Homo sapiens: one gene and its partners. Changing the gene in region 1 together with any one later gene gives a genetic interaction. Each region holds a gene or a part of one and is shown in the gene's direction. Other genes may lie near its edges.

Region 1 (3,500 bases):
CTGACCTTGAAGGCCTTGTTTGATCAGTGCTGGCATTGACCTAGAAACTTCAGTTGTCTTCCTCCTTTATGGACTTGTCAAGCCCTTCCTGCAGTTGATCATTCTGGGCAGTTAACTTGAGTTGAAGTCGTATATAAAATGCCTTATTCTGAAGTAGAGCTTAGACCCTTAGATAACCACCCATTTTCTTTTAGATGTGTCTAGAGAAGATCTTGTTAAACTCAGCAACAAAAGCCCTATAATTATTTTGTTAGCTGGATTCCAGCAGGCATAACATAGCTTGCTGGGTGGCATAGCCCTATGACAGCTTGTACTAAAACAGACCCAAACGTGTTCTATCAGGAAATCCTTAGATCTCCATCCAAAATGCAATCGGCACTACACTAGAAAACTTGCTTGTCTCTCTTGGATTCTATAAGACCTATAGGACATTTTCTCCTTAGAAGTTTAAGATTGGAATCTACTCTGGCAATGTGGTGGCCTGGAGGCATATGTGCAAAGGGCAATTAATTATTTGTTTAAAATGAAGTGCCATGTATTTATAGGCACAAAAGAGGTTTTACATTAAAAAGTTAAGTCTCCTTTCTAACCCTTCTACTTTCCTTACTCAAACCTTTAGAGGTTGCCAGTGATACCATGGTCTTGGGTATCTTTCCGGATATATTCAGTGTACACATAGCCTGTACAGTTACATTTAAACATATGGTAGCATGCATATATTCATACTGTTCTGCGCTTTAAAAAATAACTTAATGGTCAGCCTTGGTCATTACTCAATATTTACAGAACTCATTCATTATTTTTGTGGTTACATACTATCCCATTATTTGGACATAAAATAATTTATTTAGCCAATCTTCACTGATGGAAATTTAGGTTGTTTCCAACCTTATACTATTAAAATAATATGTTAATAATCATTTGTATGAATTTTATTTACTACATATGTGACTATATCCATAAGGTAAATTATTAGAAGTAACATTTCTGGATCCAAGGTGTGTGCATTTTAAATTTTGATAGTTTTTGCCAACCTGCTCTTCAGGGATCTTATGCTAATTTTAACTCCCCTGCCCCAGCAATGTATGAGAGTGCCTGCTTGTTTTATCCATGTCTTTGTCTATACATTCCCTTTCATACTTTTTGATCTTTGCCAATCTGATAGGTAAAAAATGTTATCACAGTTTTTAATTTGCATTTTTCTTATGGCTAACATTGAACATATTTTTATCTACATGTATTTCCTCTTTAGTAAACTATCTGTGTATCCTTTGCTCATTTTCTTATTGGGCTATTGGACCCCTTCCTGTTGATTTGGTGGAACTATTTATATTTTGAGGAAATTAAAGCTATTTTATATTGAAAAAATTAGTTCTTTTCTATGATATGAGCTACAAATGCTTTTTCACATTTTGATATGTCTTTTGACTTTATGGTGTTAAGAATTCGTTGCATGCCGTAGAATTTACCAGTCTTTTATGACTTCTGGGTTTTTATCATATTAAAAAATATGTGTTCTCCTATATTTTCATCTAGCATATTTGGGGTTTTTTTCTCATTTAAATATTTCTTATTTTGGTCTTAGGTGAAGGGCATTCTATTTAGATAACTGGAAGAGTTTTGGCTGTGAGGAAGTATTCTCTTTATAATGAAAGTTGTTTGGGTTATAACAGCTGGACATTTCTTATTAATTATTCTTCTACAGTGACAGAGTGAAGCATCATGCTTTGTGGTGAATGGACAGCAAGGAGACCTAATAGCTGAAGTGTAGTTGGACTTGGAGCAATTTTAAGTTACAAGACTACTGGCAGTTTCAGAGGGCCAGGTCAAGACTGGCCAAGTTGCCAGAAATTAGTTTTTCGGGCAGTAGTAAAGACCACTTCAAAGGCAGTCTCAGCATGGTCAAAGCTCCAAGAAGAGAGCATTAACAGAGGTGATTTTAGCATTTGGAGAACTCCAGATGAGCTATGGTGTTCATGAAGATCTTGAGTTGTTTGTGGACTTCTCTCCTGAGGTAGCTGCAGATTACCTGATTGACTCTGTTCATTGAGTTCAAAAGAGGGTCTCCAAGGAATTGAGTGCAGTGGTTCTCAACTCTGGCTGCTGTGCTGGAATCTGCTAGGTAGATTCTGACTTAATTGGTCTGAGGTGAGACACCAGCAACAGTTTGAAAACTCCACAGGTGGTTCTAATGTGCAGCTTGGATTGAGAACCATTGTTAATGTAGTCAGTTTGCTGTCTCTTTGAGTCAGGGATTGCAGTACATGCCTCAGTGCTTCCAAAATGTGCATACATATCACCTGGGGATTATGTTTTAAATGCAGAATCAGGAGGTCTGGGGTGAGGCTTGAGATTCTGCCTGTCTGTCTTAATGAGCTCGCAGCTTATGCTGTGGCTGGTCCCCAGACCACACTTGAGTGGCTTGAGTTTGTTACTTGAAGTGCAAAGCACTGGCCCACACCAGTCCACGAGAGTCAATAAGCCATGGTCCTGCTCTCTTGCAGAATTTGCTTAGTGTACTACAAAGAATACTCAGGTCAAGAGATCCGCTTTCCACTTCCTGCTCTGCCTCCAACTAATTAGTGTAAGACAAGTTTCTTAGAAGTGCTTTAGTCCTTCACCCTCTTATCTCTAAAATGAGAGGCTTGAATTGGATAAACTTGAAGGTTCCCTTTGTTTTTAAATCCTCTCATGCTTGTCCAGGATGTTTTCAGACTCTTTCTGGATCAGGTTGTTATGTGGGATGGAATCTGGATCCTGTAAAGACCTTGTCATCCCTTAGAGGATGGAGGCCTAGGCCCTGAGCTTATGATCTAGTGGGAGAAATAAAACTAACAAATGTTAAAAAATTAAAGAAGAGTTAAATGTTCAAGTGTAAGCTATGATAAGTACAAAAAGAATGCAGGGAAGCTAGAGAGGAGTGTTAATTGGAATGGTCAGGAAAACTTCATTGCCAAGGGGGAATTTGAGTTGACATCGTTTTTTCCTGGGCTGGGTGGACTGCAGGGCTGACAAGAGTGGTGGTTCTCCTGCTTTTGAGTTTGCTTGTCTCTAAAAAAGCATCCTTCAACAGTGAAGCACAAAACATATTTTTCTGCCTTAAATTAAAACAAAGTAGAAGAAACATCTAGTTCTGTGGAAGTCTTTAAAGGGAAATCAAAATCCAAAAAACTCTATATTTAATTTTTCAAGGCTAATCTTGACTGAGAAGATTGATACTGAAAAAAAATCACCACTACCAAATATAGAGCAAAAAACCCAGCGTACTTCCGTATCGATAATAAAAAAATGGTATTAGAAATTACCTAAAATGTAAGTAAATTCCTCAAATTATAAGTATTATTGAAAGTGACATATCTCTTTATCTTAACTAATTGGGAAAGAGACCAGATAATTTATTTAGATTTTATAACATAGGTGCACACGAATTTTTGACTCACCTCTTTTAATGTCAAAGGAGATGTATTTTGCATTGTTATTAGAATTTTACTAAATTTTAT
Region 2 (3,500 bases), on another chromosome or scaffold:
ATACTTGAGGGGAGTGACCGGCACTTCCCTGGTCACCATCTGATGGATTGTGTGCTTTCTGAACAAATAGAGGGTGCTTTCTCCTTGAGGCAGGGCCCAGGGTTTAAGAGTCATCAGCTCAGTGCTCATTTAACATTTATTGAGCCCATACTTTGTGCCAGATGTTGTGCAGGGTTTTGGGGATGCGGTGGTGACCAAAACAGTTAAAAATCCCTGCCCATTTGGAGCTTGATCTTAGTGGGGGAGGCAGGTGGTAATAATATTAAAAATGCCATGTGTGATAATTGATTTGAAGGGAAATAAAGCAGGGTAAGGGTACTGTGGCCAAAGTAGGCCCTTCTGGGGAACTAACATTTTATCAGAGACCAGAATGCAGTGAAGGAGCGAGTGAGCCATGCACATGTCTGCAGGAGCCAGGCAGTGGGAACAGCACGTGGTAAAGATTTAGAAGCTGGACTGTGTATGCTTGGTGGGGAAGAGCATGGGGCCCAGCATAAAGAGAATGAAGTCAGGGAAGTCAGCACAGGCCAGATCCTTAGGATGATGATACTCAATGTGGGCTGCACCTTGGAGTCACCTGGAGAGCTTTAGGGGAAGACCTTGCGCCCAGAACAATGAAATCAGAATTTAAAGCCTAAAGATTTTAGGCTTTGATTTCAGGCTTTGTAAGCCAGGGAAAGGACTTTTTATTTCATTTTGGATGTGGTGGAAAACCATTGGAGGGATTTGGGCAAGGGCATGATGAGATCTTACTTGCTGTTTTAAAAATAGCATGTATTAGCTGCTGTGTGAAAAGTGGACTGTAGAGGGAGTAGAAGATTAAAAGTAAACAACTTTTGGTTGTTTGGGAGTTTTGAAAATGAAACCGTTCATTTTTAAAGATTAAATTAGGAATGGCTGTTAAAAGACACATTTTTTATCTTTAATACCATTAAGGTGCATGAAGGGTTCGTAGGACAAGATCATAATGTATCTTTACAAAAAACATGAGCAAGGCTGGGCGCGCTGGCTCACGCCTGTAATCCCAGCACTTTGGGAGGCTGAGGCGGGCGGATCAAGAGGTCAGGAGATTGAGACCATCCTGGCTAACACGGTGAAACCCCTTCTCTACTAAAAATACAAAAAAATTAGCCGGGCATGGTGGTGGGCGCCTGTAGTCCCAGCTACTGGGGAGGCTGAGGCAGGAGAAAGGCGTGAACCTGGGAGGTGGAGCTTGCAGTGAGCCGAGATCGTGTCACTGCACTCCAGCCTGGGTGACAGAGTGAGACTCCGTCTCAAAAAAAAAAAAAAGCAAGCTTATGATTGAATAGATTACATCATGTGAGAATGTGAGATAATTTTAAACCACTAGTTTTCCAACTATTTTTTTTAACTTGTGTGATTTAGTACTTCTGAGTTTTTGAAACCAAATCAGAGAAAATATTGAATCTGTTAGCACCAGAGTTCTGTTTTAAACGTTGTTTTGTGCTAATGGTGTTTGTTGTCCTGAACTGGTAAGAATAAAGCCTGTCTGAGTCTGTTATTTCTTAAACATTTCGATCTTACTGACAAGTCGCAAACTACTTGTAAAGTGCAGCCTATCCTTAAATGACAGTTTGTTCTGCTTTTTCTTGTTTTTCCCCTGAGCTGAGAGGGACTTCTTTAAGCTTGGAAGCAGGGAGATGAGTTAGGGCTGACATCATCCTGTATTCCCCTCTGTTTTGGGGCTGGGGTTGACACTTTTCTTCCAGCTCCAAGGTCAGGAGTGGGAGAGTATGAAGACGTTTGCAGAGTCTAGGGGGCCCTGTTGTCACAGCATGTGCTCGTATGCAGGGCTCACTCTTCACAGTAATTAATATTGACATGGAATGAATTCTGTGAATCTGCTATGCAACCAAGGAAACCAGGATATTAACAGTAACCTACATCTATTCATGTACTCCTCCCCTATCCCAACCCCATATTAATATCTCCTTCCCATTCACCAATATCATGAGTTTTACATTTCTCATTCCCTTGCTCCTTTTCTTGGGCAGTATGATTGTGGCTGGGTGTGGTGCCTGACACCTGTAATCCCAGCACTTCAGGAGGCCAAGGCAGGAGGATCACTTGAGCCAGGAGCTGGAGACTAGCCTGGGCAACATAGTGAGACCCCCATCTCTACACTATGGGAGTAGTGGCACACACCTGTAATCTAGCTACTTCAGAGACCGAGGCAGGAGAATTGCTTGAGCCCAGGAGTTCGAGGCTGCGGTGAGCTGTGATTGTGCCATTGCTCTCCAACCTGGGCGGCACAGCAAGACCCTGTCTCAAAAAAAAAGCACTAAGCAAAAAAAATTATTATGATTTTAACATTTATTAGTCTGTTGTGTATAACTGAAGGTCATTTTCATGATCTTGATTGTGAATGTCTTCTATTTTATTTGCCCATTCTATTGATGGACATTTGGGTTAGTCTTCACTTTTCTTTTGCTGTGGACATTCTTGGAAATGTGTCCTGCTGTACACGGGCACATGTATTTCAGGTTTCTCACCTGAGAGGTATTGCTGGGTACAAGGTGGTTTAACCTTTTAAGCTTCATTGCCCTGACTCCTGTTTTGTTTCCCCCACAGGATTCAGTCCCCGTGGGGGTGGCTTTGGCGGCCGAGGGGGCTTTGGTGACCGTGGTGGTCGTGGAGGCCGAGGGGGCTTTGGCGGGGGCCGAGGTCGAGGCGGAGGCTTTAGAGGTCGTGGACGAGGAGGAGGTGGAGGCGGCGGCGGCGGTGGAGGAGGAGGAAGAGGTGGTAAGATTGGCTAGGGGTTACAGAGGAGGCCTTCCTGAGGTGGGGAGTGGGGAGGGCGGAGATTCAGGATCTTTCTCTCCTGTTGTACCTCTCCTTTATAGGTGGAGGCTTCCATTCTGGTGGCAACCGGGGTCGTGGTCGGGGAGGAAAAAGAGGAAACCAGTCGGGGAAGAATGTGATGGTGGAGCCGCATCGGCATGAGGGTGAGTGAGGAAGGCAGGGAGCCGGCTGAGCTTCGGGGCAGGGAGAGGCTGGGGGTCCTCACCCCTGCTCTGATCCCCTCACCCAGGTGTCTTCATTTGTCGAGGAAAGGAAGATGCACTGGTCACCAAGAACCTGGTCCCTGGGGAATCAGTTTATGGAGAGAAGAGAGTCTCGATTTCGGTGAGAACTGGGCCCCTGTCCAAGCCACCAGGGTCGCAGCTGAGGGTGTAGCCAGTAGTCTGTGTCTGCCCTCACCATGTGTCCTGCACGTGACAGCTGGAGGATTGTCATAATATGTAAACCACACTGTCTGCTCCCTCATCCGCCTTCTGTGACTCCCCACGGCCTTCCAGTTAGACTCCTGAGTCTTCACTCAGGCCTCCAAGACCCTGTGCATTCCAGTTCCCCCTCCCTGCCCCCTGGCTTTGTCTCCTTCACTAACTCTCTGACCAAGTGTCCTCCAGCCACCCTGGCCTTGCTGTTCCCACTCCCAGCTCTGTGGGAGGCTGCGTCCTTATCATCTGCTTCTCCAG
Region 3 (2,564 bases), on another chromosome or scaffold:
CTTGGAGCTAGATGAGGTGGAAGACTTCCTTGGAGAGCTGTTGACCAACGAGTTTGATACAGTTGTGGAAGACGGGAGTCTGCCCCAGGTGAGCTTATCACGGGCACAACTGCAGTCTCCCTACCTGTAGTCTTTCTTCTCCCCAGCTGTCTGTTTTGGGCCAAGACTCTTGACTATGACTCTGTTGCCTAGAGGAAAAAGTGTAGCCTTTCCAAACCCTGCCTTTTCTTTATTTCTATACATCATTCCCATCCAGGCCTGTTCCTCAGCCCCATCCCAAGGGCAGGTCAGGCCAGTCCAGGTCCATTTTCACCCCCGCTCTGGTTACCATTGCTCCCCAATAAGATTACCTTCCCTTTTACATCTTATTTCTTTCAAAGCCCAGTTCTAGAGGATTCCCTGCTAGTTAGGCTCTCTTTTGATGCTTTAGGCCTTCATTTGAGCCCTTCATATGTGGTTGCTTCATTGGTTAATTCCTTGGGGAGGAAAGAGCTCTGTTCTCTTCTGGAAAAATCCAACCTACTCCCCACTGTTGCTTCAAACACGTGCTGTTTGTATAGTAGATATCTGGAAAATCCAAACTGGTTGAATATTTTCTTGGTAGGTGAGCCAGCAACTGCAGACCATGTTCCACCACTTCCAGAGGGGTGATGGGGCTGCTCTGAGGGAGATGGCCTCCTGCATCACTCAGAGAAAATGCAAGGTCACAGCCACTGCACTTAAGACAGCTAGAGAGACTGATGAGGATGAAGATGATGTGGACAGTGTGGAAGAGATGGAGGTGAAGTGGGTGCCCCCTGGGTTGGGGGATACAGATGTTTTCAATTTTCTGGAAGAGCAGCTAGATTCACAGGGAAGTGATAAGGGGATGGTGGTGGTTGGTGGTAGTAGTATTATCCAGAGAGGGCAGGGAACTTTCCTAAAGTTACACAGCCAATCCTGGAAAAGCTGGAGCAGAGCCTGGGTCTCCAGTGGTCAGTGTATTCAGCTCTCTTTTAAATCTCCCCTCCAGGTCACAGCTACGAATGATGGGGCTGCTACAGATGGGGTCTGCCCCCAGCCTGAACCCTCTGATCCAGACGCTCAGACTATTAAGGAAGAGGATATAGTGGAAGATGGCTGGACCATTGTCCGGAGAAAAAAATGAGTGGGGATGATTGGAAATGGCTTTGGGCCCTTATTTGCTGTTCTAAGAGTTGTCTGTAGGGGTTTTTTTTTTGAGGATTGCAGACCTGTGGACTGGTTACCCCATCTCCACCCTCTCCCCTGTTCCTCTGTCTGGCTCCCTCCAGGGCAAGGAAAACCTAGGGTCCTTGGTCTTGGGGGTGGGGGGACCTTTTCCAGCATATTCCCCTGGGCCTTTAGTTAACATCCGAGTGACGAAGCCGGGTTCCCCAGTACAGTGTCTTTTGGGTGCGGTCATTGTGAGGAAGGGGATGAGTGAGTGTGGGTGTGGCTGGAGGAGGAGCTAGATGCCGGTGGACAGTGGGCAGGTGGATTTGGGGAGGAGAGGATCAGCAGCAGCAGCAGTACTCAGTGATAGGGGGCTGGCTGGGTCAGGAATGGTGAGATGAACATGCAAGTGGAAGAGAGAATAGTTGAAAATGTGAATGAAAGTAGCTCTGGAGCCTCTCCCTTACCCCACCCCACACACACGCAACAGCTCTGTACCCCTGCCCAGAACTTGGAACCTCCCAGGAATGCTGCCTTCCTTCAGCCCAGCCTCCAGTCCTGGGTTCCCTCAGGAATTCGAAGACCTTGGCTAGGTGGTGAGCTTGGAAGAGCTGGGCTTTGTTTTCTGTCTCCTCTAACCTCTTTCCTTACTCCTTATCCCATCCCATTTGAGTTCAGGGGTGAGGCTTAAGATCTTAATAAATAATACCTTACTGCTTAATCTGTGGCTTGACCTGTGAGTAGTAGCCTTAGAATCAGCCTTCTGGGAGCTCAGCTTCAGAGTTTACAAGGGAGCAGTTTCTGGGCCCACCCTAGCAGCCTGGTACTTTGGACAACCAAACAGATGAACGAACGGAGCACAGCAGTGCTATGAAAGTTACTGTAAGCCTGAAATAAACTGTATTTTTCTTAAAAAAAAAAAAACACACAAAAAAACACAAAAAACTGAGTATCCATTGTCCTCCCCCCTGTTTCCCTGTCCTGCCCGCTGGCCCTGCCATGGGTCTGGACGATAAAATACTGGGTAGCCTTGGGGCCGGGTAGAAGCTGTAAGCCATGGGAGAGGCAGGAGAGGTCTAGTTGCCACCCCACGTGGAGTTGTACGTGTGAAGACACTGGCTGAGGAGGCAGGGCTGGGTCGGGGCCCCAGGGTCAGTGGCAGAGCTGGCACTTGAATCCAGGTCTCCTACCTCTGGTGCTTTGTGGGGAACTGGGTGGAGGCAGGATCTGTGGTAGGGTATTGAGGGATGAGGGAGAAAAACGACCTAATTCAGGTAGGACTGGCAACGGCTCCCACCCTCCCTGGGGACAGGGATTAATAAAAATTGACATCACTGTAGGAATATATTTTTTAAAAGCCCACGTTTTGTGAAAAGATGAATTAAAAAACC
Region 4 (3,500 bases), on another chromosome or scaffold:
TATCTCCTAAAGCATTCTTGAAAAAATTAACCATCCGTATTTATTATCCCTGTCATTTAGTTGTTACTCATGCTATACATTCAACATGAAGCTTTAAGCTTCATTTCTTCTAGCATGGATGCATAGAAAGCAGCTGCTTTTGGAGGAAGCTATGAAAGTAAGGTTGGGTTCAACTCTGAATGTAATATTGGAAGCACAGGTCTGTAGCCATTGGGAAAAAGGGCATTTAATTTTTTCCGCATAGATTCAGCTACTAATACTGTTTAATCTTCACACTAAACTAGTTCACTACATCTAAAGGTATGATAAATAAACCAACATAGAGCAGTGTTCTTCATGGCTTGTAACAGAATTAGTGGCAATTTTTGTAATTGAGAATATATTACAGCAATACTGCTTTTAATAATGTTTCATAGTATTAAGAAATTTAATGGTTTGTTTTAAAATTGACTTGTTAATAAAAAGTAGATTAAGAAAAGTGTTTCTAAATTTTTTTGTTTGTAAGGACAATAGGTTAACTTTCCCAAAGTAAAAGGATTTTGTCTGCAGTAGTTAATAGATCATGTGACAAAATCAGTTGCGTAGAAATAACTAGCAAACTTATTTTGTATTATAAATGAAGAAACAAGATTTAGAGCTTAAAGCTGGTTAAGGAGTCCTTTTGGTCTCTAAAAGTCCTATGTCGTTAGTTCAGTCTACTTTTCGTTTACCACCTCCTTGGGGGTCTTATTTCAAAGGAAAAGGAGTAGTAGTAGCAGCGAGCTGCTATAGTGGAAAACATGATTTTTAGTGTTAGACGTCTTAATTTGATTCTTGGAAGCTCTCTCTAGTCATTGCTTAAGTCCCATGTACAAATATGACCTGTCCTACAAGAGATTGGAGGGTTAGTTATGAGGTTTAAAAGCACCTATTACAGTGCTTGATAGGTAGAAGGCACTCAGCTTAAAGGGTACATTTAGCAGTATAATGAAAATGATTTAGCATATGTGATACTCATTGCTTAAAATTAAAAAAATTTTTTTTTTGCTACTCATAAAATATGCACTAATGACAAGAAAAATTTATTATGCTAATTAAGCTTTTAAAGTCAACTGGGAAAAAAAGCTGTAGGTAGGTTTTTTTTTTTTTAAAGGAATGTGTAACTTGGGGGAGGGGAAGAAATTATTTACAAGGGTGACTTTTAATCTGTAGACAGAACTTCTGCATACATGGTTAGTATAGTAGGATATTTAGCAGTGTAACATTAGGACTACCCTCTACCCTCTGTTATCAGCATTTTTCTATTTTTAGCCAAGTAGACAGCTAGAAAAAAGATGCGGGAAGAGTTGGATGTTTTCTCCAATATTGTGTTCTGTTAAAGATCTTGAACTCTATTGCTTAGCAACTAAAATGCTTTCACCATTCAGTTAGTAGTACAAGGGAGATGCTAGGTTTTCTCTCTTTAGTTTGCTTTTGTGTCTTTTTTTTTTAAACCCCTGCTGGGGTTTTAAGTTTATAAAGAACATTATGTAAGAATGGTGGGATTAGAATAAATCAGAATGCAAATACTAGAAGTAGCATCAGAGAGTAAAATTACAACTAACAGGAAAGAATATTATTTATGTAGCGATTGATGTGAGTGGTGATAGTGTGGGAAGTATTTGATTCTGTGTAGAATGCTTATCACTTCAAAGCATCTGACAAAATGGTAACTTGACCAAGTAACTTTTACTGTGTGAGGATCTTTGATACAACTTTTCCTCTAGTTAGATAAGGTTATCTAGCTAGATATTCTCAGGGAGAAGACCAAAACACTGCTAAAATGTGCTTTGGCCCTAGATAAGCCACATCATTATTCTTTCGGCCTTCTGTCATTTCTCATATGACACATTATGCCCATCAGTCCTTTAATGAAATCAAATAGAAATGTGTATGATTGTATTTTAAAGTATACACATTAACTCTTGTAACCACAGACTCACAATGGAAGCAGGCGTCTGATCTTTTCAGGCAACCACAGTGGTTCTGGTGGGTTTCTGGGTAGAGAACAACCATATAAGTTATTGAGTGTGTAGCAGTGTGTTTTCCTGATTGATGTATGGGATAGTCATGAATGTGGTATTGTATTTCCTACCTGAGGAAAAGGTCATGATTAAAATAAAGCATCAAAGCCAGGATAAGCATATAATTTCTTTCTTTTTTTTTTTTTTTGTAATGAGACAGAGTCTCACTCTGTAGCCCAGGCTGGAGTGCAGTGGTGTGATCTCAAATCACTGCAACCTCCGCCTTCCGGGTCCTGGTTCAAGCAATTCTCCTGCCTCAGCCTCCTGAGTAACTGGGATTACAAGTACGCCCCACCATGCCCAGCTAATTTTTGAATTTTTAGTAGAGACGGGGTTTCACCATGTTGGCCAGGCTGGTCTTGAACTTCTGACCTCGTGATCCACCCACCTTGGCCACCCAAAGTGTTGGGATTACAGGCGTGAGCCACGGTGCCCACCCGAGCATACGATTGTTTTAAAAAAGACTAGAATAAAAGCCAAGCTAAAGATTATAAGGTATCTTTGTCAGAAATGGTTGTGAGAGTGCTTCCTACCCTGTTTTTGATGCTTTATTGTTTATAACCATAGAATTAAACCCATGATAAAGTAAAGTATAAGAGAAAGATAACTGACAGATTTTAAAGTCATCAAACTTTTTTCTTGCTCTGTCACACAGGCTGGAGCACAATGGCTTGATCACAGCTCACTGCAGCCTTGACTTCCCAGGCTCAATCTTCCCACCTCAGCCTCCTGAGTAGCTGGGACCATAAGTGCGTGTCCCACCACACCTGGCTCATTATTAATTTTTCTTTGTTGCCCAGGCTGGTCTTGAACTCCTGGGATTACAGACATGAGCCACCACACCTGGTCCAAACTTTTTGCTTACAACTTTTAATAGAAATAGGTAAAAGAAATAGGAAGGATCTAATTGAGTTATAAAACAACCTTTAAAGATACAAAAGTGAAAAAGATTAAGCCATTGCTTTTTGTCAATAGAATTAAAAGCTGTTGGTAAAAATATTAATGTATGAAAAACTTATTGAAATGAAAAAACTATATATATATATATATATATATATATATATATATATATATATATATAAATAAAATGTCGACATGGCTGGATCTTAAAAACTGTCAAATGAAAAAAACTAATTGCAGGAAAGATTTTTTTTTTTTTTTTGAGAGGGAGTCTCACGCAGTCAACCCAGGTTGGAGTGCACTGGGGCAATCTTCCTGATTCTTGGGGAATCTTGGCTCACTGCAACCTCCGCTCCTGGATTCAAGCGATTCTCCTGCCTCAGCCTCCCGAGTAGCTGGGACTATAGGCGCACGCCACCATTCCCGGCTAGTTTTTGTATTTTTAGTAGAGATGGGGTTTCGCCATATTGGTCAGGATGGTCTTGAACTCCTGACCTTGTGATCTGCTCACCTCGGCCTCCCATAGTGCCAGGATTACAGGCGTAAGCCACCGTGCCC
Region 5 (3,500 bases), on another chromosome or scaffold:
TATTAGATCAGTGGTTTTCAAATTACATCTGGAACAAAATAAGGAAATTAAGGACAATATAGCGTGAGATTTTATTTCCTGTTGTGTTTTCATAAAAATATGTTTAAAGGATAAATCTTCTGGCTGGGTGTGGTGGCCCATACCTTTAATCCCAACACTTTGGGAGGCTGAGGTGGGAGGAACACTTGAGCCCAGGAGTTAAAGACCAGCCTGGCCAAAATGGCAAAACCTTATCTCTACAATAAATAAATTAGTTGGGTATGGTGGCATGGGCCTGTGGTCCCAGGTACTCAAGCAGCTTAGGTGGGAGTTTTGCTTGAGCTCAGGAGGTGGAGGCTGCAGTGAGACATGATCATACAACTGCAGTGTGTGTGTGTGTGTGTGTGTGTGTGTGTGTGTGTGTGTGTAGACTTTTTTTTTTTTTTAATTTATATGATAAAAATAGAGATGAGATCTCGCTGTGTTGACCAGGCTGGTCTCAAACTCCTGGGCTCAAGCGATCCTCCCATTTCAGCCTCCCAAAGTGCTAGGTTACACGCGTGAGCCACCATGCCGGCCATTTCTGACATTGTCCACTCTACTTATTTGTTGTTGAAATGACTTTAATGAAATAATAGTGATTAAAATTAGGTTGTTGGTATTTTAATGTTCTTATTTGGTGAAATTAAAAGTTAGCATTCTGATACTGATCCCTAACATTTTTGACAGTTGCAGGTATAATCCAATTCTGGGGAAACTGTCACATTAGAACAAGTGAGCCTATCTCATAGTTGTGTGAATTACCTAATACCTCACCTTTCAGGGTAGCATTTGCTGCTCTAGATAATGATTAAGAGTATATGAAGTAGTCATCTGATGGGAACGAATTCTTTGCTGTAGAACAAGGCAGTTTTACATACTCTTCTGCATTCTCAGCTGTAAAGTACAGTGACGTCTTTTGGAGTGTTATCTGAAATATCATCTCTCCTTGTAGCTGCTGATGAAGAAGCATTTGAAGATAATTCTGAGGAGTACATAAGGAGAGATTTGGAAGGATCTGGTGTGTATCTTGGTTTTTTAGTTACTAGTCTCTTAGCAAGCCAGTTTTAAGGTGGTTCTCTTTCTAGTAAATGGGAGAAGTGGGATTGAGAATAAGAGTGTTTTTTCAGCGGGCTTTCATTGAGAACTGTTGTCTTTCTTCAACTTGTCTTAAAAAGCTCTTATATGACCTGAATGAAAATATCAAAAGTTGAATCATTTGTCTGTTCTTACATAGTATTTATCAAAATTCTGTGATTCTGTGACCTCTTTAGTTTCATTTTGATTTTGTATTTCTTGGGGGCGGGAATGTTTTTTTCATTGTTTGTGTTGCTGATAGCTATTGGGTGGCCCTTTGTTTTTCGTTCTTTTTTTTCCGTTTTACAATCGTAGCCAAATTATTCCAGGCAATTTGTTTTCTTATAAATTGGATCAGCTTGTTGGTGGTTGTTTTTTTTCCCCATAATATATTTTCTTTTCATTTCATAGATATTGATACTAGACGCAGGGCTGCTTGTGATCTGGTACGAGGATTATGCAAGTTTTTTGAGGGACCTGTGACAGGAATCTTCTCTGGTTATGTTAATTCCATGCTGCAGGAATACGCAAAAAATCCATCTGTCAACTGGAAACACAAAGATGCAGCCATCTACCTAGTGACATCTTTGGCATCAAAAGCCCAAACACAGAAGGTAAATATTTTTAATGTGGTTTTGTTTCTAAAACAGACATCAGTGACACCCACACAAGTCAAAAAGAAATAACGTCTCTGATAATAGAGCTTACTCTGCCAGATAACCTATTCTGATTAAGATTTATATAATCTCTGAAGATGGCTTTATGTTGATGTATTGAGCACTTAAGTTTCTTATAGACCAGAAAATTGATAGATGGCCACACTTGTTACCTTAGCTGAGACCCGCTGTATCAAATATGCTTAACTTAAACTTAGCTGTTCTTTAATTGAGGAAAGTTTCTTTATTGTCTATTAGTATAGTCTTATTTTACATTTTTATATTTTTGAGATGGAGTCTCACTTTGTCACCAGGCTGGAGTGCAATGGCGTGATCTCAGCTCACTGCAACCTCCACCTCCCGAGTTCGAGCGACTCTCCTGCCTCAGCGTCCCAAGTAACTGGGATTACAAGTGTGCACTACCACACCTGGCTAATTTTTGTATTTTTAGTAGAGACAAGGTTTCACCATATTGGTCAGGATGGTCTCAAATTCCTGACCTCGTGTGATCCTCACACCTCAGCCTCCCAGAGTGCTGGGATACAGGTGTGAGTCACCGTGCCTAGACAGTATAGTCTTATTTTATATTTTATACATAAGCAGGTTGTGTTTTGTTGTTGTTGTTTTGTTTTGTTTTGTTTTGAGACGGAGTTTCGCTCTTGTTGCCCAGGCTGGAGTGCAATGGCACGATCTTGGCTCACCGCAACCTCCGTTTGCCGGGTTCAAGTGATTCTCCTGCCTCAGCCTCCCGAGTAGCTGGGATTACAGGCATGCGCCACCACCCTGGCTAATTTTGTATTTGTAGTAGAGATGGGGTTTCTCCATGTTGGTCAGGCTGTTCTTGAACTCCTGACCTCAGGTGATCCACCTGCCTTGGCCTCCCAAAGTGCTGGGATTACAAGCATGAGCCACCATGCCTAGCCTAAGCAGTTCATGTTTTGAAGTGTCCCTCTCTCTCTTTTTTTTTTTTTTTTTTTTTTTTTTTGAGACGTTGTCTTGCTCTGTCATCCAGGCTGGAATGCAATGGCAACATCTCAGATTACTGCAACCTCTGCCTCCCGGGTTCAAGCAATTCTCATGCCTCAGCCTCCCGAGTAGCTAGAATTACAGGTGCATGCAACTACACCTGGCTAATTTTTTGTGTTTTTAGTAGAGACGGGGTTTTGCCATGTTGGCCAGGCTAGTCTTGAACTCCTGACTTCAAGTGATCTACCCGCCTCGGCCTCCCAAAGTGCTGGGATTACAGCCGTGAGCTCCTGTACACAGCCAGTACAGTCTCATTTTATACATAAGCAATTTGTATTTTGAAGTGTTCATCTCCATTTTAACATGGTTTTCTAAAATTGCCTGAATTTCTAATGTGATAGATATATACAGGTATTTTGTTATTTTACTATGTTATGAATTTGCTTTTCAGCATGGAATTACACAAGCAAATGAACTTGTAAACCTAACTGAGTTCTTTGTGAATCACATCCTCCCTGATTTAAAATCAGCTAATGGTGAGTTGTGAAATTCTTGCTTTTTTTACAGCTTGCCACACTATACCTGAATTCAAAAAACAGCTTCCTATCCTTGTTCCCTTTTGTTCTTTTTTTTTTTTTTTTTTTCTTTTGAGATGGTGTCTTACTCTGTTACCCAGGCTGGAGTGCAGTGGCACAGTCTCTGCTCACTGCAACTCCTGCCTCCTGGGTTCAAGCGATTCTCCTGCCTCAGCTTCCCAAGCAGCTGGGACTACAGGCACGTACC
Region 6 (3,500 bases), on another chromosome or scaffold:
CATTTTGGCATTTGGGCTCTAAACCCAGAAAGTAAAAGTAGACTTAAAAAAATCAGAAGAATGTATGTACGCTTATATGTGAAATTAGGCACGTTAGTATTAGACCATGCCAAGGTTTTTAACACCTGCTTCTAATAACTTGAAAGGTCAAATTGGCATTTTTTTAAATGAACTTTTTCTTTTTTGCTTGGGAATACTACCTGATGTGTATTTTTAAATCAACTTTATCTTTGAACATTTTTGATTTGTAGGAAAGTTGCAGTGGAGAGTTCCTGCATTATCCTTCAGCTGGTTTCCCCTAATTTTTTTTTTTTTTTTTTTTTTTTTTATACAGAGTTTCGCTCTGTTGCTAGGCTGGAGTACGGTGGCATGATCTCGGCTCATGGGTTCAAGTGATTCTCCTGCCTCAGCCTCCCGATAGCTGGGACTACAGGTGTGCACCACCACGCCCAGCTAATTTTTGTATTTTTAGTAGAGGCGGGGTTTCACAATGTTGGCCAGGATGGTCTTGACCTCTTGACCTTGTGATCTGCCCACCTTGGCCTCCCAAAGTGCTGGGATTACAGGCCTGAGCCACTGTGCCCAGCCTTCCCCTGGTGTTAATGTCTTACATGACATGGTACTTTTATCAAAACTAAGGTTAACATTGCTACATCATATAAATTCCAGACTTTATTCAGGTTTTACCAGTTTTTCCGCTAATGTTCTTTTTCTGTTTTAGGATCCAATCCAGGATACCCATTGCATTTAGCCTAATGTATATTTTACATATGATAGTTCAACTTGCATTTTCCTTTTTCAGTTCTTGATGAAGCAGATAGAATCTTGGATATGGGCTTTGCTGATACCATGAATGCTGTTATTGAAAATCTCCCCAAGAAACGTCAGACTTTACTTTTCTCAGCAACACAAACTAAATCTGTAAAGGACCTTGCACGCTTGAGTTTGAAAAACCCTGAGTATGTCTGGGTTCATGAAAAAGCAAAATATAGGTATGTACTCTTTGAGTCAATCAAGATAAATGTTTTTTACTTTTTTAGTTTAGGGATTTGGTATTTTAAATATCTGTTTTCTGGGAATTAAGACATTCTATGAGTTATTGGTTATGCAAAGCATAGTAAATATACCAGTTAAAATTACCCAAATTCTGCATATATCTTTAAATGTCAGGGTACTTGAATGTAGCATTTCCCAAAATGTGGTCTGGGAGGGGAACAAATGTTTTTCCATAGATGTTAAGAGGTATTTTACCATTTGCCAACACTACCTCTTAATAAACGAAGGGAGAAGGGATGAAATAGCAAATGGTGAGTCAAAGTGAAACAGTTTTATTTCTATTTCTCACAACCTTTAATATTTTCAGGGACATTGTGATTGTTGAAAGCAGTGGGAGGGAGGTGGATGTAGCTTGCTACATTTACCAAATTTTTTGGGTACGGAATCATCCTTTTTAGCAGGATTATGCAGTACTAATGTGTTATGGAACACATTTTATGAAGTGCATTAATATTTAGCAAAATACCTTTCAGTCTAAAATTCTAGCAACTATTGTTTTGTCTTGGTCTCATTAAAAACTAGAGCTTAAAGTATATGTGTTACAGTAAAAGTATGTATGTTTGTGATATGCAAGTAGTTGGGGAAATTTTTATTTATCTCTTTTTTTCGAGACAGGGTCTTGCTCTGTCACCCAGGCTGGAGTGCAGTTGTGTGAATATAGCTCACTACAGCCTTCAACTTCTGGGCTCAAACAATCCTCCTGCTTCAGCTTCCTGAGTAGCTGGGACAACCAGGGCATACCACCATGCGTGGCTAATTTTAAAATTTTTTGTAGAGTTGAAGACTTACTACATTGCCCAGGCTGGTTTCAAATTCCTGAGATCAAGCAATCCTCCCACTTTGGCCTCCCAAAGTGTTGAGATTACACTCAGGCATGAGCCACTGTGCCCAGCTGGGATATGTTTTAAGTTGTATTTTCATATGACAATTAGAAGCATATATATTTGGTATGAATCACTGCAGACTTCCAGGAGAAATGTTTTCCAGTAAATATAAAGTTGGATTTTTTGTTGAAGATAGCAATGTAAATTCAACTCTTCTATTATTTATATCTTAAAATTTTTATTTCTTCTTGCTCTGAAATGTTAGCCTAAAAAGAAATAGATTTGGAAAATGAATTGTGTTATCTGGAAATTCCTTAAATAGAGAAAATATGAGTATTCAGGCCCATCTTGACCTTGTATAATGTATGTCTAGGATTTAAAAAGCCTGAGACGAAGAGGCCAGATTCTTTGCTTCTGGGTGATCTTGGGGAATCTGAGTACTGGTATCTTTGACTTTCAAGAACTTGGGAATGGAATAGTAAGATATGTGAGGTATAGTTTTTTTCCCTTGGCTTACTTTCGAGTGGACATTGATCTCTTAAAGAGTTGAGATAGCTATGAAAATTTTTGTGACAATTAACAATTAACTTGAAAATGTAAAGACTGCTTGTCTAGGATTTTTCACTTTTCTCTTTTTTCTGTTTGCCTCCAGCCTATTTTTAATATTCATCAGACAGATTTTTTTAATCATTAGATGTCTCTAAGACCTTTCATAATTTATGCAAGTTAATTTGTACGTATTATTTCCTATCCCCAATTTCTGTAGGTAAGAGTTGGTTATTTTCTGTAAATTACAAAGTTTTAGAAAAAAACTACAAAGACTTTGATATTATTTCACAAATGATTTTTGAAACCCGGTCCCATCACTTATAAAAGTGTGGTGGACAAAATTTTCAGAAAAAAATTTTGGAAGGTAGACATGTATTGACATAATTTACAAAACCTCAGGTTATATGATAATGGCTGCAGTATTCTAATATTCCAAATTTATAGGAAACATAAAAAAGCAGATGCTCTTAGGAATTTCATCTAATGTCAATGTTAGCTTTTCCACTTTAGTAGCTTATCAATGTGGTTCATACACCAGGAGAGATAATAATCAAGAATATTTTAAGGTGTTAGAGAGTATCTACTCTCAAATTGTGAAGGACACAACAACTAAAGAAAAATTAGATCTTTCTGAAGTTGTAAGTCAGAGCATACTTAGAAAAAGTATACTAGTGTTTTCATTATGTGGTTATATATAGACAACTGGTATTTCTAATGATTTTATTTTTGAGAGAATATGCCTTTGGGCCATAGCAATTTGCTGTTTTTCAGTGACAAGTTGAATTCTATGGTGGATTATGAAAAATTTCAAATTTGAGATATGTCATGAGCTTATGTTATTAGGTATATACAAATTTAGAATTGCATTGTCAATTTGAAACATTAATCATTATGAAATGCTTCTTTTTTGCATGTATGTGCTTATTTTCTGTGGACAGTCTGTCTTTTTTGGTTTGGTTTTTTTGCCTTTTTCTTATTGGCTCGGAGGAGCCCTTTAGATAAATTAATTATTTATTTGTAATACGAGTAGCAAAACACTTCCCTACTCCCGGTGTTTTTTCATTTTATAAA
Region 7 (3,500 bases), on another chromosome or scaffold:
GTTAGGCCTGGCAATGTTAGAGATACATAAAGAGAGCCTTGTTTTATCACTGGGTGCGGTGGCTCACACCTGTAATTCCAGCACTTTGGGAGGCTGAGGCGGGCAGATCATGAGGTCAGGAGATCGAGACCATCCTGGCCAACACGGTGAAACCCGTGTCTACTAAAAATACAAAAATTAGCTGGGCGTGGTGGCGCATGCCTATAATCCCAGCTACTCGGGAGGCTGAGGCAGGAGAATCACTTGAACCAGGGAGTTGGAGGTTGCAGTGAGCCGAGATCGCGCCACTGCACTCCAGCCTGGGTGACAGAGCAAGACTCCGTCTCAAAAAAAAAAAGCTTGGTTTTCAATGGTTCTGAAAAATGCTTTAATACAAGTGTAGAGTGTTAGTCAAGTTTTGCACTTGGATAAACAGCCTGTGAATTTATCACATTTCTAGTTTATAATATGGGCTTTCAGAAGTTATATGAACATTGTTTTGACGGGAGAATTCAAGCTGGATGCTAGAGAAGGATCGTGAGAACCCCTTCATTGGAGGAGTGCTATGAAATTATTTGATCTTGGAATTTTTTTTTTTTTTTTTTTTTTTTTTTTTGAGACAGAGTTTCGTTCTTATTGCCCAGGCTGGAGCTGGAATGCAGTGGCACGATCTCGGCTCACTGCAACCTCTGCCTCCTGGGTTCAAGCAATTCTTCTGCCTCAGCCTACCAGGTAGCTGGGATTACAGGCATGCGCAACCATGCCCAGCTAATTTTTGTATTTTTAATGGAGACGGGGTTTCACCATGTTGGTCAGGCTGGTCTTGAACTCCTGACCTCAAGTGAACTGCCTGCCTCAGCCTCCCAAAGTGTTGGGATTACAGGTGTGAGCCACTGCGCCTGGCCTGATCTTAGAATTTGAAGGAGAGACTAATATTTCATGGGCAAAAACAATGAAAAGTTACCTTTCTGTATTCTAATACTATAGAGGAGTGGGATTTATTTAGAATGTTTTAAGTATCTTGGGCAGTCCAAGAGTGCGTATCACTTATTTTTCTTTTCCTTCTTTCTTTTTAAGTGGAAGTTCACTGATGTTAGAGATCATAGGTGGCATTGCCTACTTTTTACATAATTTTATCATGTTTAGTGATCTGTCAGAAGGGCTGTGGCTGTTTGCAGTTTTGGCTTAAGCCATGCATGGGCTTTATAGGAGATGTAGTCTTCACAGTGAGTTGTTATTTGTAGCTGTGTTTTTGTTTTTGTATAGCTTATAGCAATGCAGTGTGCTTTTTATTAACATCATTTTCTTTTTCTTTTTGCAGTGATTATTTATTCAAGTTACTTCTGATTGGCGACTCAGGGGTTGGAAAGTCTTGCCTTCTTCTTAGGTTTGCAGTAAGTTGAAATTGAAATGTCTTTACAATTAATGGTACAATTAATGCTATGTATGTTTTCTAGGTAGATAAAATTAAACAGTTTTATTCAGAATAAGTTAATTCTTCCAGAATTTATATATTTAAAGACTCCAAATATACATCCCCAGTGGTATCTTGGACTGTTAAATAGAAAAATATTGTTGCTCTTAAAAGAAATTCAGTGAAGTATGGTTATAAAGTCAGAATGTCTAATACTTTTGGTCAGAGTCAAACAGCAGTTCCAATATAGGCAGCAAGTTAAAGGGGTAGTTGGTGGCCTGTGTTGAAAGCGACTTGATGAAAATAAATCTTTAAATTAAACTTTAGTAGAATAAGAAGAAAAAGCAGAGCCAGGTGACGCAGTGGATCATGCCTGCAGTCTCAGCTACTCAGGGTGCTGAGGGTGGAAGGATCACTTGAGTCTAGGAGTTTTGAGACCAACCTGGACAACATAGCATGACTCTGTCTCTGAAAAAAAAAGTTAATAAAAGAAAAAGTAGGGTCTTGGACAAACTTCGTTGGCCAATGGCATAGTTCTAAATGCTGAAGCTGACAGATAAAGGACTTTTGACTTAACAGAATCCACAGTGTCCTTCATAGTCTTTATCAACTACCTTTAAATTTAGCATGTTTCCTGGCCAGGTGCGGTGGCTCACGCCTGTAATCCCAGCACTTTGGGAGGCCGAGACGGGCGGATCACAAGGTCAAGAGATCGAGACCATCCTGGCTAACACGGTGAAACCCCGTCTCTACTAAAAATACAAAAAATTAGCTGGGTGTGGTGCCACACGCCTGTAGTCCCAGCTACTCGGGAGGCTGAGGCAGGAGAATCGCTTGAACCCAGGAGGCGGAGGTTGCAGTGAGCTGAGATGGTGCCACTGCACTCCAGCCTGGCAACAGAGCAAGACTGTCTCAAAAAAAAAAGAAAAAAAATAAAAAAACAAATTAGCATGTTTCCCTTCTAGAGATCATTGTTTCTCAGAGCATGGACCAAAGACTCCTGGGGGTTACCAAGACCCTCTCAGGTAGCCCATGAGGTCAAAATATCCTAATAATACTAAGATGTTAGTATTTGTAAGGAAATATTTACTTGGTAATAATACTAATATAAAAGATGTTTGCGTTTTTCAGTGATGACATTGGCTCTGGTACAAAAGCATGTGGGTAAAATTGCTGCTGGCTTGGTACACATCAAGGCAGCGCTAAGCTCCAAATTGTACTCATGGTGATGGCATTCTTTACCTCTGTGCCCTCACAGGAACAAAAACAAGCCGTGCCATTTTTATTGAAGATTGTCCTTGACAAAACAGTTAAAATGATTAATTTTTGAAAAATGTTGATCCATGAGTATTCCTTTAAAAATATTTGTGAAGAAATGGGAAGTTCACATAAAACAATGTTTTTTTTTTTTTTTGAGACAGATTCTGGCTGTGTTGCCAAGGCTAGAGTGCAGTGGCGTCTGGCTCCCAGGCTCAAGCTGTTCTCCCACTTCAGCCTCCCAAGTGGCTGGGACCTCCCAAGTGGATGCGCCATCATGCCTGGCTGATTTTTGTATTTTTTTGTAGTGACAAGGTCTCACTGTGTTGCACAGGCTGCTCTCAAACTTCTGAGCTCAAGCGATGCATGTGCCTCAGCCTCCCAAAGTGCTGGAGAAAGCACTTTTTACTGCATACTGGCTAGTGTGTTGGTTATTTTGGAGAAAAGAAAAGCATTTGTAGTTTTTTGAGTTGTAAGCTGAGCTAACTGCTTTATTTTTTTCTGTGGAACACCATTTCTTTTTTTTTTTTTGAGATGGAATATTGCTTTGTTGCCCAGGCTGGAGTGCAGTGGCACAATCTCGGCTCACTGCAACCTCCGCTTCTCGGGTTCAAGCAATTCTTCTGCCGTAGCCTCCCAAGTAGCTGGGATTATAGGCACCTGCCACCAAGCCCAGCTAGTTTTTGTATTTTTAGTAGAGATGGGGTTTCACCATGTTGGCCAGGCTGGTCTCGAACTCCTGACTTCGTGATCCGCTTGTCTCAGCCTCCCAAAGTGCTGGGATTACAGGCGTGAACTACTGCACCTGGACATTTTTTTTTTTTTTTTTAACTTGAAAGAACAGCTAACA

Evidence for each region.
Region 2: of ATG10 (region 1) and FBL, changing one suppresses a phenotype caused by changing the other (phenotypic suppression), as found in Homo sapiens cells (one large-scale study listed by BioGRID).
Region 3: of ATG10 (region 1) and TSR2, changing one suppresses a phenotype caused by changing the other (phenotypic suppression), as found in Homo sapiens cells (one large-scale study listed by BioGRID).
Region 4: of ATG10 (region 1) and XPO1, changing one suppresses a phenotype caused by changing the other (phenotypic suppression), as found in Homo sapiens cells (one large-scale study listed by BioGRID).
Region 5: of ATG10 (region 1) and CSE1L, changing one enhances a phenotype caused by changing the other (phenotypic enhancement), as found in Homo sapiens cells (one large-scale study listed by BioGRID).
Region 6: of ATG10 (region 1) and DDX10, changing one suppresses a phenotype caused by changing the other (phenotypic suppression), as found in Homo sapiens cells (one large-scale study listed by BioGRID).
Region 7: of ATG10 (region 1) and RAB1A, changing one enhances a phenotype caused by changing the other (phenotypic enhancement), as found in Homo sapiens cells (one large-scale study listed by BioGRID).

The regions. Positions count from the first base shown.
Region 1 is NC_000005.10:82,052,023-82,055,522, forward strand, and holds part of ATG10 (ubiquitin-like-conjugating enzyme ATG10), read left to right. Parts: intron 1-3,209; exon of another isoform or gene 3,210-3,312; intron 3,313-3,500. UniProt on the Homo sapiens protein: E2-like enzyme involved in autophagy. Acts as an E2-like enzyme that catalyzes the conjugation of ATG12 to ATG5. ATG12 conjugation to ATG5 is required for autophagy. Likely serves as an ATG5-recognition molecule. Not involved in ATG12 conjugation to ATG3.
Region 2 is NC_000019.10:39,839,880-39,843,379, reverse strand, and holds part of FBL (rRNA 2'-O-methyltransferase fibrillarin), read left to right. Parts: intron 1-2,592; coding exon 2,593-2,763; intron 2,764-2,864; coding exon 2,865-2,966; intron 2,967-3,052; coding exon 3,053-3,147; intron 3,148-3,500.
Region 3 is NC_000023.11:54,443,404-54,445,967, forward strand, and holds part of TSR2 (pre-rRNA-processing protein TSR2 homolog), read left to right. Parts: coding exon 1-88; intron 89-604; coding exon 605-781; intron 782-1,012; coding exon 1,013-1,147; 3' UTR 1,148-2,564. UniProt on the Homo sapiens protein: May be involved in 20S pre-rRNA processing.
Region 4 is NC_000002.12:61,528,357-61,531,856, reverse strand, and holds part of XPO1 (exportin-1), read left to right. Parts: intron 1-3,500. UniProt on the Homo sapiens protein: Mediates the nuclear export of cellular proteins (cargos) bearing a leucine-rich nuclear export signal (NES) and of RNAs.
Region 5 is NC_000020.11:49,073,812-49,077,311, forward strand, and holds part of CSE1L (exportin-2), read left to right. Parts: intron 1-973; coding exon 974-1,039; intron 1,040-1,506; coding exon 1,507-1,709; intron 1,710-3,168; coding exon 3,169-3,253; intron 3,254-3,500. UniProt on the Homo sapiens protein: Export receptor for importin-alpha. Mediates importin-alpha re-export from the nucleus to the cytoplasm after import substrates (cargos) have been released into the nucleoplasm.
Region 6 is NC_000011.10:108,678,569-108,682,068, forward strand, and holds part of DDX10 (probable ATP-dependent RNA helicase DDX10), read left to right. Parts: intron 1-802; coding exon 803-992; intron 993-3,500. UniProt on the Homo sapiens protein: Putative ATP-dependent RNA helicase that plays various role in innate immunity or inflammation. Plays a role in the enhancement of AIM2-induced inflammasome activation by interacting with AIM2 and stabilizing its protein level.
Region 7 is NC_000002.12:65,102,607-65,106,106, reverse strand, and holds part of RAB1A (ras-related protein Rab-1A), read left to right. Parts: intron 1-1,300; coding exon 1,301-1,373; intron 1,374-3,500. UniProt on the Homo sapiens protein: The small GTPases Rab are key regulators of intracellular membrane trafficking, from the formation of transport vesicles to their fusion with membranes.